2 linked regions of the Homo sapiens genome follow. The protein of the gene in region 1 purifies or fractionates together with the protein of each later gene. This does not show direct contact. Each region holds a gene or a part of one and is shown on either strand. Other genes may lie near its edges.

Region 1 (5,123 bases):
CCATCCAGCCCACGAAAAAAGGAAGGGTATGCCTCCTTTTTGAGGCTGATGATGCACCTCCTGTCACTCACTGCCCTGTCTCTTGTGAGAGGTCATGCAGCCTTTTTCTGCAGAGTCAAAATACAAGCAGGCATCCAAGAGAGGTAATGTGGTGTAGATAAGCTGAAGGAAACGGACTACAGTAGACTTGTGGGTCTGAATCCACTTCCCAGCTGAATAAGTTGGGCAGATCACCTAAATTCTCTTGGCCTCAGTTTCTACTTTTGAAATGTGTGGTATCTACCTCACAGAGTTGTTATAGGAATTGAAGGAGTGCCTGGCACAGGGTGTGTAAGCAATAATATTATTATATATATATCATGTATGCAATCCCAGGGTCCCCCATGCTGAAGCTGGCCTCCACTGAGAAGAGGCAAAGACCAACATTTATTGAGTGCATTCTACACCAGCAACTCTATATACGTTATGCTTATCAGACCCTCAGGCTGTGGAAACAAGCTCCTCCCTGACTCTGCCCTCTGGCTCCAGTAGAGAATATCCTTCTCCCAACTTCTGGACCAAGGGGTGATGTGAGGCAGTGATAAAGTGAGATTGTGGGTTAATCTCAAAGTCCTCTTGGTTGCATGAGTGGGTGTGTCTTTTTTTTATTTAAGTTCTAGGGTACATGTGCACAACGTGCAGGTTAGTTACATATGTATACATGTGCCATGTTGGTGTGCTGCACCCAGTAACTTGTCATTTAACGTTAGGTATATCTCCAAATGCTACCCCTCCCCCCTCCCCCACCCCACAACAGGCCCTGGTGTGTGATGTTCCCCTTCCTGTGTCCGGGTGTGTGTTTCTTGTCATTGACCACACCAAAAGTCAAAGAACCCCAGGCTGATCTCTCTCCAGTTGTGTGAGCTGAACAATAGCTTTCATTTGTCACTAACACCATGACTCACACCTCTGGATGAAAGTTTAGTCAACCTTCCCTGGAGGAGGCCTAAAGGGAGTTTGGATTTAGGAGTGAGTGACAGGAAGGGGTAGTTTAGAACAGCGGTCCCCAACCTCTTTGGCACCAGGGACCGGTTTTGTGGACGACCATTTTTCCCATGGACGGGGTTGGGGGAGGGGATGGTTTCGGGATGAAACTGCTCCATCTCAGGTTGTCAGGTATTAGTTAGATTCTCATAAGGAGCAAGCAACCTAGATCCCTCCCATGCGCAGTTAACAATAGGGTTCCCACTCCTATGAGAATCTAACGCTGTGGTTGATCTGACAGGAGGCAGAACTTAGGCGGTAATGATTGATGGCCCTCCACTCATCTCCTGCTGTGTGGCCGGGTTCCTAACAGGCCACAGACAAGTACCACTCCACAGCCCGGGATTGGGGACCCCTGGTTTAGAACATGAGACATCCACGGAAGTCCAATGCAGAGGCCTTGGAGGAAACAAGTCACTTAAGGGTTCAGGATGGCGGGGATGGGAGAGAGTAGGAAGACACTGAGGAAGAAAATAATTAAGATAAACTGCTTATTTTCAACTTTTGATCATTCTGCACACTGGCTTTGCTTCACCCTTAAGCCAAACTTCTTTTTTTTTTGGCTGAACTTTGAGTGAAAAGTCAAAAGCAAAGAGAATTGGCTTAAAGAAGAATAAATATCTGATGTGTATAATATGATCCAAATATTTTTGTATATCTTCAATCTCTATTTTTAGAGAACAGATCTCTTCTGCTAGGAGGCTATGTGTGACTGGTCCCCAATAATTTGTTGAAAATGTACAGTTAATTTATATGTTGTCTATTTCGTGAATAATTTGACTCAACAAGTGATCTGTTTCTTGTTCCTTGGCTCCAGGAGGAACTCAGGATTCCTTGGCTTTGGGGAACTTTTTTTCCACATTCCATAGGCCAAGCCATTTCTCCCTAGATGGGAATTAAAAGCTGAAGGCCCCAGACTGACCCAAGTGACCTCACAGAATGAGTTGTCACATTAGCAGGAGTTGGGTTTGGAAATGTGACCAAAATTTCCGCAATCCATCTTAATATACTGAAGAAAACTGGCTAGCTCAGCAACTCTGCAAACTGGAAGCTTAACCATTCTGCTGTAAACGTACATACTTTCCTTAGCCTTGGGTCCCAAAGCCAGAATGTGACCTTCCCCTGGCAGTTTACTCACTAAACAACAAATCCTGGCCTGCCATATATTATGAGGATAAGCATCAAATTTTTCTCCAAAACTTGAGAATACTTGGATTTCTCATTTAACAAGACAAGTTTGTTTCCCTCATAATGAACAAGGAATGGAATCAATCTTGGCACCCAGTAGTCCATGCATTCAGGAATTTATGATCCTAGGGAATAAAACTTATTTTTCAAAATAACACTCTTTCTGTTTTCCAAAGGAATTAGAGGTGGTGAAGATGGATCTTTTTTGGATAAAATTATTATAAGCCTCAATACGTGTTGTCCTTCAAAGGATCCAGCTTCAAAGGCTGTACTTACTCATGCTATTATTGCAACAAGTATATTTGGAATTCCTCTTTTGAATTATAGTCTGCACAGTAGATTCAGTAGCAGCAAGCGGTCATATCCACCTTGATGGTTTACTCTAAGTGTCGATCTTAAACTAAAGTGTCTTAACTATTTTAAAATACTGAATGTAGCCTTAAAAAGACAAAGATTTAACAACCTAGAAACAAGTGGATGTGTCACAAACTCTGAAGGTAATTCCTCAGTGGAATTCAAAGAATGTCTTGATTAGTGGAATCACTGTTAGAATGAGGTCATGGGTGACTACCTTCAGGATAATAACAACCCTCATCTGTATATTACAGTTCTGACATGTTTGTAAGTGGTACAATAAGCGGTAGGTGTGCACAGCTAAAGCAAAGCCACAAATGTAAGTTTGAGATCTATTAATCTATCCACAGAAAGGTGCGCAATAATGATGCTGTCCACACCCTCAGCTTCCCTGCATTTCTCCGTGCCCTCAATGATGCTGTCATGTTCCACTCACATCATATTGGCTAAAATGAGGAACATACTTTAAAGACATAAAAGGAGACCACTCCAAAATTGGGAATCCATAAGATAAAAAGTAGTAACAATGCCTAAGAGCCTTTACCCCGTCTATAGCTCCTGTGCTACTTCTGAAGGAGGTAGAACTCTATTACTTTCTGTGCCAGATATTTATATGTTGTCTCTTAGTCCCAAGCCTGACACCCTTCTGTATTTTATTTTATAATTCCAGAACTGGGAGTCTGCAAACTACATTTCCCAGATTCTCTTGCCCACTGTCTTCTAGTTATGTTCTGCCTATGAGAGACTGGAAGATGGTATGAGGACATAAGGGTCTCTAATCCTGCCTCTGGTTTCTGCCTTCATTCCTCCAATTGCAGCCAATAGCTATGGTTCAGGCATTTTTTGGCATTCCTGGCATCAGCCTCATGGTGCCAATTTAGGAGTCCTTGCAACAGCTACACAGAGGCCCCTCCTGTGGACTCTTAGCTTCTGGTGGCAACACCTTTTCCCATTTATTCTCCCAATTCTAGGGCCAATAGCTACTCCCTGCAATTACCAATCTCTGGATTATCTCAGTTTTCTCTTTCTGCTTTTCCAGTCTTCTTTTTTTTCTTCTTCTAGTCTTCTAACAACTATCTATTTCCTTGTATTAAATTCCCTGTTTGAAATATTCACCTTGGTATCTATTTTCCTGACTGCAACCTAATTTATTTTTCAAATGGGTTTCCTCAAAGCAATCAATGAACAAAAATAAAATAATTTCAGTGATCTTGTAAGTGCCACCTATTGGCAAGGTAATGAAAACATACCTTAGGGAAAGAAAGATGGGAGCAAGGTCTCTGGGACAAAATGGTGCCTCAACTAGAGATAAATTTTCTTTTTGAGAAGTTAGTTTTTGAAGGAGTGAGTTCATGCCGTAGTTTCCTGTTTGGTTTCTACAGCTTTAACTTGCCCTGGAAAACTCAGAAGGAAATGGTTCATTCAAAGTCTACTTACTCTTTTCTACTTGAAAACATACCCATGCCCTCCACCCCCCAACCCCCGGCAAAAAAAAAATAAGAAAAAAAAATGTGGTCATATGTTGAGGCTAAAAAAAAAAAAAAAGTAAAAGAAAAAAACCATACCCACACAGGAGGCCAATGATTACAGCTTCATCATAGAGCCCATTGTTCTTGTTTAGCTGTGCCGTGCATTTCCTACCCCCAGGCAATCCAGAGAGCCCCAAGATGGCTGGAGCTGCTTTAGGCGTGGGCCTGTTTATCTGGACTCTCAGAAGTTCTCCCATGAGGGAACAGCTGACCTTCTCGTATGTTTTATAGGTTCTTTCTTTTCCTCAGTAGAAAAAGAATCATTTCTGTTTTATTTTCTTCCCAAATGAATGTAGAAGCAAAGGTTATTGCTTCCATGTGACAAAGACTATCAACTAGTCAGTTATGGTAGCTTCTATTTATTGCAGACTTACTATAGGCTAGCAGTTTACATATGTTTCCTATTACATTAGTGCTCACAAATAACCTCCATTTGACAGATGAAAAAGACAGGTCTATCCTACATCCTAATACATGAGCATTTGTAGACATAAGTGTCCAGGAGGGATTTGTTTTGCAGCTGCAGGAGAATTCACAGTAATGAAAACTACTGTATTTTTCTTAAATCCTTGAGTTGAATTACAGAGAAAGTTTGCAGGATCCTTGGCATAGAGAGAAGAAAGATTATTAAAAGCAAGTCAGATTTGGTGTTGTCTGAAAGTATTAAAAATACATAAAAGAATGGATAAGAGAAACTCTCTGTAATGTGGGATGCATATTTCACAAAGGATACAGCCCCAGAATGGTGAAATAAAATGCCAATTATATTTTTCTTTATCTCATCTTTAAAGTTTCAATTTGTGAGTGTATACTTTCTGATATGTGTAATATATTTGAGCAGTAATATATTACTGCAGGAGAAAGATTGCATTATTGGAACTAATTCTTTACATCTTTCTGTGTCTAAGCTGTTTGCCATATAACTTTGCAGTGCCCTCCTATGGTGGGTGGGCTAACCTGCCCTGCCCTTTGACTTGCAGCTTGGCCATGTGACTTACTCTGGCCAATGGGCTGAGCAAATGCCATGAA
Region 2 (4,929 bases), on another chromosome or scaffold:
ACAGTTCTTCAGTGATCCTTACAGAAAGACACCCTCTCCAAACAAACGCAGCATTTATATACAGTCCATTGGTAAATACTGGTAATGTGCTGGTTTTGGTTCAGTTTTGCAGTGGCGCTCTTGTCAGGAATAGTCCAGGCTATGGGTCTGATTCAGATGGGCCGTTTTAGGATCGTTTTTGATATTCATTGCGGCGGTACAAGTTTTGTAGCCAAACTGACTTAAAAGATAACATTTTGTTTCTTTTTGTTTCATAGCAACACCAATGAATGATAAAGGTTATTGAAAATTTAGAGTTGGTTTTGTTTCTAATTTGAATCTTCTTACTCATAGACTGGGTAAACACTGAATAATCATCTTAAAGTCTGTTTTTAAATGTTCTTCCATATTGTAGGCTCTCTAGGAAACACCAGAATTATCAGTGAAGAATATATTAAATGGCTCACGGGCTACTGTAAAGCATATTTCTATGGCTTGAGAGTAAAACTCCTAGAACCAGTTCCTGTTTCTGTAACAAGATGTTCCTTTAGAGTCAATGAGAACACACACAACCTACAAATTCATGCAGGTGAATTACACGACTTTGCAATTCGAACTGAGTATATGTATATAATATACACTCATACATTTATGTATTTCTTTTTAAATAGGGGACATCCTGAAGTTCTTGAAAAAGAAGAAACCTGAAGATGCCTTCTGTGTTGTGGGAATAACAATGATTGATCTTTACCCAAGAGACTCGTGGAATTTTGTCTTTGGACAGGCCTCTTTGACAGATGGTATTCCGTTTTTGGCATTGTTGTTAGAAGCTTCTTCAGCTTGAGAATATTTGAAGATGTTAGAAGAGGGAAAAAATTCCAACCAAGAATCATATTGATATTTAAAATATTTTCAGTTGAGACATTATGCCATAATGGGAAGTGTGCTGTTGGTAGATTGTGATAATCTAGGTTCTGGTTGGCCACTCACTACCTACAGGACCTTAAAGGTAACAATACCCACATCATGGAGTCATTTGGAGATAATTTACATAAAAGTGCCTGTACATAAAAAGTGTGGATAAGCCTGGACAACATAGACCACATGTCTACAAAAAAATAAAAATTTAAAAAACTAAATTAGCTGGGCATGGTGGCACATACCTGTAGTCCTAGCTACGCAGGAGGCTGAGGTGAGAGGATTGCTTGAGCCCAGGAGGTTGAGGCTGCAGTGAGCCATGATCGAGCCACTGCACTCCAGCCTGGGCAATAAAGTGAGACCGTGTCTCAAAAAAAAAATGTATATATAGGCCTGGCATATATATAGGCATACAGCATAACAGCTAGTAAATGTCAGTAATTCAGTAGCAAGGTGAATTAAACCAATTACAGTTTGAGCTATCAATGGATGTGAAAATCTTGCTAATTATTTTTCAATTCTTTTCATAGTCATCTTGCACAGTTAGAATAGCCATAGACTAAGTGTATGCTTCTTTCTCATCATACGACATTTGTTTTTTAATTTAAAGAGTCAAAACGTCCATCTTTGATTTGAGATATGTAATAAACCTTGACTCATTAGGAACTCTGTATGGTAATATTAGGGATGGGAAAGGTTCTGCAAACCGGTCATATTTTTAACCTTTTTTTTTTTTTGTCATCTCTCTACTTCTCCCCTCCCCTTAATTATTGTTCTTATTTCTCTAACTTCATCCCTAAGAATCCAACACAGACTTGAAAGGGAAAAGGCCCCCTAAGGGGAGTGGTTCATTAGTGTTCTGGGGATGGGGAGTAAGTACAGGGACTATCCTGAGAGTTTATGGTCTGTCTGGATGTTACATTAGCCTTAGGATTTGTGTGGGGTGGTAAGCTTTTTGGGACAAATGTTTCTACTAGAGGTGGGGGCTGTAGGGTTATAGAGCCTCTTCCCACTTACTCCTTTATTCTTTATTCTCCATTTATGTGAGGTTTCTTGTGGCCCCCATGGCCCTACCAGCATGCACTCTTGGAGACGTGGGTCACTACTTTCTTACTGATTTTGGTGGTGTGAGGTAGCTTTTTATCATAAGTTTTCTCTTTTATTATTAACCTGATAGAGATGGAAACATTGAAAAATAATTCTATCTACCTTTTATTTTTCTTTTGAGACAGAGTCTCCCTCTGTCACCCAGGCTGGAGTGCAGTGGTGTGATCATGGCTCACTGCAACCTCAACCTCCTGGGCTAAAGGGATCATCCTGCCTCAGCCTCCCGAGTAGCTGGGACCACAGGACCACCACACCCGGCTATTTTATTTTATTTTATTTTTGGCCAGATGGGATTTTTTTTGGCCAGATGGGATCTCCCTGTGTTGGTCAAGCTCATCTTGAAGTCCTGGGCTCAAGCGAGCCTCCCATCTCAGCCTCCCAAAGTGCTTTGATTACAGGTGTGAGTCACCACACCCAGCTAAAAAAATAATTTTAAAACCATATGTTCGTTTATCTAGATATTGCTAGCTAACTTATCTTATGTGTTTGAGGAGGTCAGGAAACATTTCCCCAAACTGTATTTACTTTAATTCTTTTTTTGGTAAGTTTCTTAAATATTACATGACATAAAAGATTTACATAGGAAAGTAGCAGGATTAGACAGTGACAATATCTTAACACAGTGGTCTTGTTTTCTCCGAGTTTACAAAGATTGATATTTTTAAAGTGAGACGCATTGACTACGAAAAAAATAGTCTATTTGTAGGATTATTGGAAGAAGGAAATGTCCTTGCTGAAAGTAGTGAAATATGCTCACACTTGATTGGCCAGAGGGGGTTACTTGTGATAAAGGAATAGATTTAGTGTGCTCTTAATTTCCAGAATGCTATCTTTGCTTAATTTTCAAATATCAGTCTACATTTTCTGGGTAAAGGGAGGTGAGGAAGTTTGTTTTTGAATCAAATTAGATTGGACAAATCTACTATGGGTTTATTACTTTAAAAACTGAACGAGAGACATAAATAAAAGTGATCATGTAAACAAGTCGAATTATGAAGCAGTACCCTGTAGGGTGAGTTATGTAGCAAACCGTGTTCTCTGTGCTTGCAGAGATGGTTGATATAACTCTAAATGTAACACAGGAAGTCAGTTACAAGGGTATTTATTCTGGTCACCAGACACTAGTGACAGAATAGAGTTGAGCTGTTCTTTGAAAAGGGGGTAGGGTTGGGGAAGGGGACGAGGTTATTCTGTCAAAAGCCGTGGTTTAAAGCATGGGCTTCAAGACATCAGGGGCAGTTGTCCTCAGTCAGTGCTGCGTGAGGGAAGGCCAGCAACCCCTCCAGACACACGTGTAACAGATCTGTTTAGTGTGTCCTTAAATAGTGAAATCATGACTTCCTATTGTTCATGTGATTTTTTTTTTTTTGAGACTGAGTATCACTCTATCGTCAGGCTGGAGTGCAATGGTGCGATCTTGGCTCACTGCAACTCCGCCTCATGGGTTCAAGCCATTCTCCCGCCTCAGCCTCCCTAGTAGCTGGGATTACAGGCACCTACCATCATGCCTGGCTAATTTTTTTTAGAGACAGGGTTTCACCATGTTAGCCAGGCTGGTCTTGAGCTTCTGACATCAGGTGATCCACCTGCCTCGGCCTCCCAAAGTCCTAGGATTACAATCGTGAGCCACCACGCCCAACCCATGTGGTTATTTTTTATGATTCCTTTTTGAGTACTTGATTTGGAGTACTTGCTACTTTCAGAAAAAGACTTCTTTTGTGGGAAAAGACTCTCTGAAACTTCAGTTTCTCAAGCATTTGACCTCAAGTCCATTAAGTTTTACAAGGCAAGGCAAAGTGGATAGCAGCAAAAGATTTTGATAGGGAAATCTGGGGCAAAAGTCTTCCTTTTTGGTGGCAAACCATAAGTGTATCAGATGGTGTGGACACAGTGACACAGAGATGCACTCACTGGCCAGATGGGCCAGCAGTCTCTTCTTTCTTTGGTCTTTCTTCAGGGACCTTACTCTCATTCTGTCACTGTTTGTCCTTTTTTTGTAGGTGTGGGGATATTCAGCTTTGCCAGGTATGGCAGTGATTTTTATAGCATGCACTATAAAGGCAAAGTGAAGAAGCTCAAGAAAACATCTTCAAGTGACTATTCAATTTTCGACAACTATTATATTCCAGAAATAACTAGTGTTTTACTACTTCGATCCTGTAAGGTAAGTTATTACAAAAATCTGACAGGACAGTTCTTTAAAAGAGATCTTAGTTCCGTAAACTGTATATTGTCAGTCCGTAAGGTAATATTATAAATGAGTTTGTATCATTTGTATAATTTTGGTGCATAGTGCTTGACTGAAATGATCAGTAAAACAATTTAAATGGATACCTTCATATTGAAATTTACAATATCAGTGCCAGTTTTTCTGTACTACTAGTTACAGCCTTGGCTGTACCCATGTGCTATTAGTGTAATTCTGAATTCTGGTATGAGTGGGTAACCTACTTTTTCAAGCTACTGTGGTCATTGGGCAAAGCTGCTTTCCCCAGGCCTTTGGAGAACCTCTGCTCTGGCCTCTCTGGGAGCCTGGGCCTTCCTGCCCTGGGCTCCAGGTTACCCTCGACTGTAGTTGTCCTGGCAGTTCCTGATATCCCCAACTCGGTTTTGTGGAAAGCCTATCTCCCCTTTCTCCATAGCCAGAGAGATGGGCTTTTCCTTCAGCTAGAGAAATTCTGCTTTTACCTGTACTATTTGTTGGGGTTTGACAGCTACACCTCTGAGAACTACATTCTCACAGTGTGTTTCATGGGCCCCCTGTGTCATTGCCACCTGATGTTCTCATTAGCATGCAGATCAAGCCCCCTTTCTCCCAGACCTACTGAAATCAGCATCTCTAGGGGAAGAGCCCCAGAATCAGAATTACAACAAGTACCCTAGTGTAGATCAAGGGTTCTCAGCCAGGGGTGATTTTGCCATCCA

What was found. Proteins that work in one complex are often made in the same cells at the same time.
Region 2: the proteins of KCNV2 (region 1) and AMZ2 purify together in Homo sapiens (affinity purification with mass spectrometry; one large-scale study listed by BioGRID and IntAct). This does not show direct contact.

Annotation. Positions count from the first base shown.
Region 1 is NC_000009.12:2,722,951-2,728,073, reverse strand, and holds part of KCNV2 (potassium voltage-gated channel subfamily V member 2), read right to left. Parts: intron 1-5,123.
Region 2 is NC_000017.11:68,250,400-68,255,328, forward strand, and holds part of AMZ2 (archaemetzincin-2), read left to right. Parts: coding exon 1-71; coding exon of another isoform or gene 72-81; intron 82-394; coding exon 395-568; intron 569-650; coding exon 651-779; exon of another isoform or gene 780-988; intron 989-4,004; coding exon 4,005-4,168; intron 4,169-4,929. UniProt on the Homo sapiens protein: Probable zinc metalloprotease.